2 linked regions of the Homo sapiens genome follow. The protein of the gene in region 1 interacts with the protein of each later gene in a pairwise test. Each region holds a gene or a part of one and is shown in the gene's direction. Other genes may lie near its edges.

The links.
Region 2: the proteins of OLR1 (region 1) and HUNK interact in a two-hybrid assay, tested with the Homo sapiens proteins (one large-scale study listed by BioGRID and IntAct).

Annotation. Positions count from the first base shown.
Region 1 is NC_000012.12:10,159,716-10,162,211, reverse strand, and holds part of OLR1 (oxidized low-density lipoprotein receptor 1), read left to right. Parts: intron 1-1,286; coding exon 1,287-1,426; intron 1,427-1,696; coding exon of another isoform or gene 1,697-1,749; coding exon 1,750-1,865; intron 1,866-2,190; coding exon 2,191-2,332; 3' UTR 2,333-2,496. UniProt on the Homo sapiens protein: Receptor that mediates the recognition, internalization and degradation of oxidatively modified low density lipoprotein (oxLDL) by vascular endothelial cells.
Region 2 is NC_000021.9:31,879,217-31,883,046, forward strand, and holds part of HUNK (hormonally up-regulated neu tumor-associated kinase), read left to right. Parts: intron 1-3,830.

The DNA of each region.
Region 1 (2,496 bases):
CTTAAGGAGATGGGAGAGATGATGATGATGATGGTGATGATAGTGATGATTTGAGGGTTCCTGAAAGCATCCATAAACATGTAGACATTGGTATATTTTGCCTATTGTCTAAGTCCTGTTTTTGGTTTGGTGGACTCCCTGTGAATTTTGCTACTGAAAATCTCCTTATTTTCTAAAATCTCGTTTAAATTGAGATCCTCGCTTTATATTAATATACTATTTTCCCTAGAACAACTCTGTACAAAAGAAATATAGTATGTGTTTTTTATATATATATATATATATATCATTAAAATTTCTAGTAACCACATAAAAATGAAAAAGAAGCAGATAAAATTAATTTTAGAAACACATTTTATTTAACCCAAGATATTTGAAATATTATTTCAATACTAATCAGTATAAAAATTTTTAATGGACTATTTTACATTCTTTTTCTTTTTCAAATTAAGTTTTCAAAATCTTTTGTGTGTTTTACACTTATAGTACATCTTAATGCAAACTAGCCGGGTGTGGTGGGTCATGCCTGTAACTCCAGCACTTTGGGAGGCTGAGGCAGGAGGATTGCTTGAGGCCAGGAGTTCAAGACCAGCCTGGACAACATAGCGAGACCCTGTTTCAATTAAAATAATTTGTTTTAAGAAATGCAAACTAGCTATATTTCTAGTACTCAAGAATCACATATGGCTACTGTATTAGACAACACATGTCTGAAAGCAAGACACATAGTATTTAAGCCTAGATTCATTATTCAAAGATATGAAATTTTAAAATGCATAGCATTACTTTTTAAAAATAGCAGAATGGCTATTAAATATCTGTTCTCCCAACCCTCACTTTCTTTATTTCCAACACAACTTTAAAAAATAGATCAGTTTCTAAAATTACATGCTAGCTTAACTTGCTTTTCATCAGGGGAAGTGAAAATGCTAAATGAGAAGTACATTTAGGTTGCTAAAATCAGTATGCTTTCTTTCTTTCTTTTTTTTCCCAAAAAATGAAGAAATAAGGACTCTGAGGCTATTTAGGTATTTGCAGAACCTGGGTAAAATTTTACTTAAGAAGTAGTGTGGGCAGGGCGCGGTGTCTCACGACTATAGTCCCACTACTTTGGGAGGCTTGGCCTACATGGTGAAACCCCATCTCTACTAAAAATACAAAAACAAAAACAAAAACAAAAATAAATAGTATGCACGTGAGAGAACTAAGGGGATCATTGATTTAAGAACTGCAGTACTGCTTTTACACAAACATAACTGACTGATGAGATATACTATCCTTCCCAGCTCCTTGTCCGCAAGACTGGATCTGGCATGGAGAAAACTGTTACCTATTTTCCTCGGGCTCATTTAACTGGGAAAAGAGCCAAGAGAAGTGCTTGTCTTTGGATGCCAAGTTGCTGAAAATTAATAGCACAGCTGATCTGGTGAGTGTTCATGGATATTTGTTGGGGTGGAGTATTGGTTGATAGGGAAATTAATCTGGTTTAAACTGTCACTGGAGGAATTCTTGTTTGAGAGCCAAAATGTCTGTTTTTTTAGCTTAGTCTGATCACCAATTTTGTGTATGACCTTGGACGGACAGGCTCTGTAGTATCTCTAGCCTTCAGTAAGTGTTTCCGTAAAACAGTCAAGGGGATGTCAAAGATACCTTTTGGTTCTTTAGTTTTGTGGATCCAACACTAACTGACTTTCAGATTCTAAAACCACCATGTGGATTCCACAAACTCAGAAACATTACTCCCCACAGGACTTCATCCAGCAAGCAATTTCCTATTCCAGTTTTCCATTCTGGATGGGGCTGTCTCGGAGGAACCCCAGCTACCCATGGCTCTGGGAGGACGGTTCTCCTTTGATGCCCCACTTGTAAGTTTCCCATTCTTTTTGATGCCTCTCTCGTCAGTTTCCTATTCTTTGCTGAACCTGCTAGTGAGGTCACTGCCTGCATCCCACCAATGTCCTCTTCTTGCCAGAGAGAAGCTTGGGGGAATTTCTCAAAGTCTCCTTCCTTACCTCTTTCACAAAAAGATTTACTCATTAACCATTCAGACATTTTCTTGAGTTTTCCTTCCCACATTTATTACTGATTGGAGGCTTTAAGACAAAAAGTTTCAAAAGCTAAGTTTCTGAAACAAGGTGGCAGTAAACCTAAGTTTTTTTGTTGGTTTGTTTTGTTTTTTCCTACCTGCAGATTTAGAGTCCGAGGCGCTGTCTCCCAGACATACCCTTCAGGTACCTGTGCATATATACAACGAGGAGCTGTTTATGCGGAAAACTGCATTTTAGCTGCCTTCAGTATATGTCAGAAGAAGGCAAACCTAAGAGCACAGTGAATTTGAAGGCTCTGGAAGAAAAGAAAAAAGTCTTTGAGTTTTATTCTGGAATTTAAGCTATTCTTTGTCACTTGGGTGCCAAACATGAGAGCCCAGAAAACTGTCATTTAGCTGGCTGCAGAACTCCTTTGCAGAAACTGGGGTTCCAGGAGCCTGGCACCTTT
Region 2 (3,830 bases), on another chromosome or scaffold:
TAGAAGTTTAGGGGTAATCGCTCTGAGGAACAAGAAATGCTTAGAGAACTGGAAATTCCTATTAATCCTTGGCAGGGACTTCTTGGCAAGAAGGAGGCATTTGCAAAGCACCTGCTTGGTGAGCCCTGTGTGACAAGGCAGTGCCTGTAATTTCGAGGATTGCATTCTGCAGTTGCAGGCGGATTCTTTTGAACTTCCTGCCCTGCCTCATCTTTTTGAAGTACTTGTGAATGATGGAAATTGGCACGTAGGGCCTGGTTCCTAGTGTTCATTGATACAGGTCCCACGGACTTCAAAGGGTGCTTTGAGTCAGCGCAACAGTGCAGAAACGGTGCCCACGGAGAGGAGTACAACCCTACATTTTCTCTGCAGGTGTTGAGTCACGGCTATAGCTACCCGTGCATACCAATCCGACTCAGGTCTGTGAGACTATAGAATTCTGCATGCTGCCAGCTATTGGAGGTCAGCGCGGCAATCATCTGTCCCAGGGTTTATCTGCCCAGAAGGGGTGGGGAGTGGCAGCCATGTGCCCCCGAAGAGAGGGACAGGTTGGGGTGTTCTCCATGGGAAGGAGGCTTGGGCACAGGGTTATCATTTGCCTTGGGACATATATTCCCTCTGTCGATTATTTATGGTAACGGAGAGACCTGCTCTCTTGGCTAATTGAAACCCGTAGATAATCCCCAGGCCTTATGTTAGCTGATGGGTGAAACTTCTTTCTCTACTCAGCCCTGGTCTAAGTACTGACCTGAATTGAATTTCACGCTTTCTGATAGGAGGTGCCACTGGGTGGTACGATGACCAGCAGGAAAGAGCTAGAAACACAGGGACTGAATAGTCCCCGAGGAGGGGGATGCCTCTGTGAATTCGAGACAGCTGTTCCCTCTCCTCCATCACCAGCACCAGCCCAGTGCTACAGTGTTTTACGGTTTTTTTCAGGGTGCCCCTCCCGTGCACATTCTTGTTAGATGCCTGCAGCAGCCCTGGTGGAGGGGGTAACAGCCAGCTTGCTGGTGTTCTTGCCTGCCTTGATTACGTAGAAGGGTGCCCTGAGTAGATCTTCTCTCTGACATTCTCTATGAGTTTGCTAGGATGGTTCTAACAAATTACCACACACTGTGTGGCTTCAACAACAGAAATTTATTCTGTCACAGTTCTGGAGGCTAGGATCCAAAACCAAGGTGTTGGCAGGGCCATGCTCCCTCTGCAGCCACAGGGAGAATCCTTCCTTGCCTCTTACTAGCTTCCGGTGGTGGCCAGCACTCTTTGGCATTTTCTGGCTTATGACTGCAGCGCTCTGTCTCTGCGTCTGTCTTCACACAGTGTTCCTCCCTCTGAGTGTCTCTTCTGTCTCTTAATCTTTTCCTATGTCTCTTTATAAGGACACCAGTCATGGGATGTAGGTCTACCCTAATCCAGTGTTGCCTCATTTTAACTCGATGACATCTACAAAGTCCCTATTTTCAAAGAAGATCATATCCACAGGTACCAACGGGACTTGAAGGTATCTTTTGGGGGAGCATAGTTCAAGCTCCAGCACCTTTTTAGACTGTCAGTATTGGGTTGTGGCAAGCGGATCTTGGGAAGGAGATGAATGTGCTTTTAGGGATTACTCTCAGAACTGACCTCTGCAAGGGAAGGGGCAAAGCAGCACTGGGCAGAGGGAGAAGCTGGGCTCCAATACCGCTCTCAGCCAAAGCCCCTGCCCATGCCGTGGTGAGTGCTGGAGCTGAGCTGGCCCTTCAGAGCTGACCAACTTGGGTTGAGAGGACTGGGATTTATATTTCCGCATCGGCCAGTCCTTGATGGGGGCTGCCCAGGCAAGGGGCATGGCCTCGTACGGGACAGTTGCTGAGGGCGGTTCCTGGGGAGAGCTCACAGCTGATAGCCTGCAGCTGAGGCAGTCAGTTCTTCAGCACTGACGGGGAATCTGGGGGTGCAGCCCAGCATTTGCTGTTTACTGAAAGAGACAGGGTCAGAGTCCAGGGCTTTTCATCTGAGTCCATACCATATGGACCGTAGACAACGTGGGCATCTTTTCCATGCGCATTTTGGATATGAGTGGTCATCATTTCCATGTGTTGGTATCAAGTCCTCTCATCTCGTTACCTTGAAATATACAAAGTATGGCCAGGCGTGGTGGCTCACGCGTGTAATCCCAGCACTTTGGGAGGCCGAGGGAGGCAGATCACCTGAGGTCAGGAGTTTGAGACCAGCCTGGCCAACATGGTGAAACCCTGTCTCTACTAAAAATACAAAAAAATTAGCCAAGTGTGTGTTCCTGTAATCCCAGCTACTCGGGAGGCTGAGGCAGGAGAGTCGCTTGAACCAAGGAGGTGGAGGTTGCAGTGAGCCGAGATTGTGCCACTGCACTCCAGCCTGGGTAACAAGAGCAAAAACTCCATAACAACAGCAGCAGCAACAACAACAACAACAACAACAAAGAAATATACAAATTATTGCTGCTAAATATAGTCCCCGTAGCAAACATTAGCATTTAGTCCTTCTATCTATGTATGTTTGTACCCATGAACCAGCTTCTCTTCAGCCTGCCCTACCTTGCTGCTCGACTGTGGTCTCTCTCCCTGCAATGAGGGAGCAGCCGGCGTGGCATCTCATTAGCAGATTCTATGTGCCACACGCTGGGGGATTTTCTGGCCTCACATTTCTCTTAGGTTAGAATCATCAGGGCTCTGTTGTGTTTCTCAGTACTTACAAGATTGAAAGCTCACTTTATATGTATGCTCTATGGGTTTTTTCCTGAGAACTCTGGGGCAACTGAGTGTTGGGCCAAGTTGTGGGCCAGCATGCCTACTTCAGAGACGGTGGCACTTTCCTGGGAAGAGACCCCCCCTCCCCCATCACTCGTGAGTGGTGGGAAAAGTTGTTGAAGGAGTTGTGGGAATTTGGATTTTTGATGAGTAGAGTAACAGTTTGGGACATTCTCATGGACAAAAAAAACTACTCAGGGTAGAGCCATCTGTTAACATCCTCTTAGCACTCTTACGGTGGCCACTGTGCCCTAGCTATGCAACTTCTAATCACTGGGTTCTTTTTGGTTTTTAATCATCTTTGTGTTTTCAAGATGCATTTGGTTAAGTTTTGGAATTGGTAATACAGACACATGGTCTGAAATTCAAAGGTTCTGAGAGGGTTTGCAGTGAGAGGTAACTGCTTCTTATCTGGGCTCTTCAGTTCCTGGATCTTCTCGTGAGAGGTCACTCCTCCTTCTAGTCCTTGTGTATCCCTCCAGAGATACCCTATATGCATAGAGACCCACATACATATTTGTAAATGCGTAGTTAGGGGCAGATTTTTCTTCTTTATTGATACATAATATTTTACATATTTATGGGGTACATGTGAGTGTTCCATGCATGGAGTGTGTAATGATCAAGCCAGAGTATCGGCGTGTCCATCACCTAAGTATTCATTTCCACGGGTTGGTATTATATCAAGTCCTCTGTTCTAGTTACCTTGAAATATACAAAGTATTGCTACTAAGTATAGTCACCCTAACAGACATTAGAATTTAGTTCTTCTATCTATGTATGTTTGTACCCATGAACCAGCTTCTCTTCATCCATCCCTCCCACCCACCAGGGCAGATGTATTTTTAAACTGTACATGCTGTTCATTATCTTGCTTTTTCACTTAGCAATATGTCTTGAGCATTCTTCCCCATGACTACTACAGAATTGCCTCACTCTTTATGTTAATTAGTTATTGCATAGTAGTCATTGTGTGGAAGTATCATGTTGACTTAACCATCCCTTGTTGATGGACATTTAGGGAGTACATAATTTTTTTTTTTTTGTTATTCTCAAACC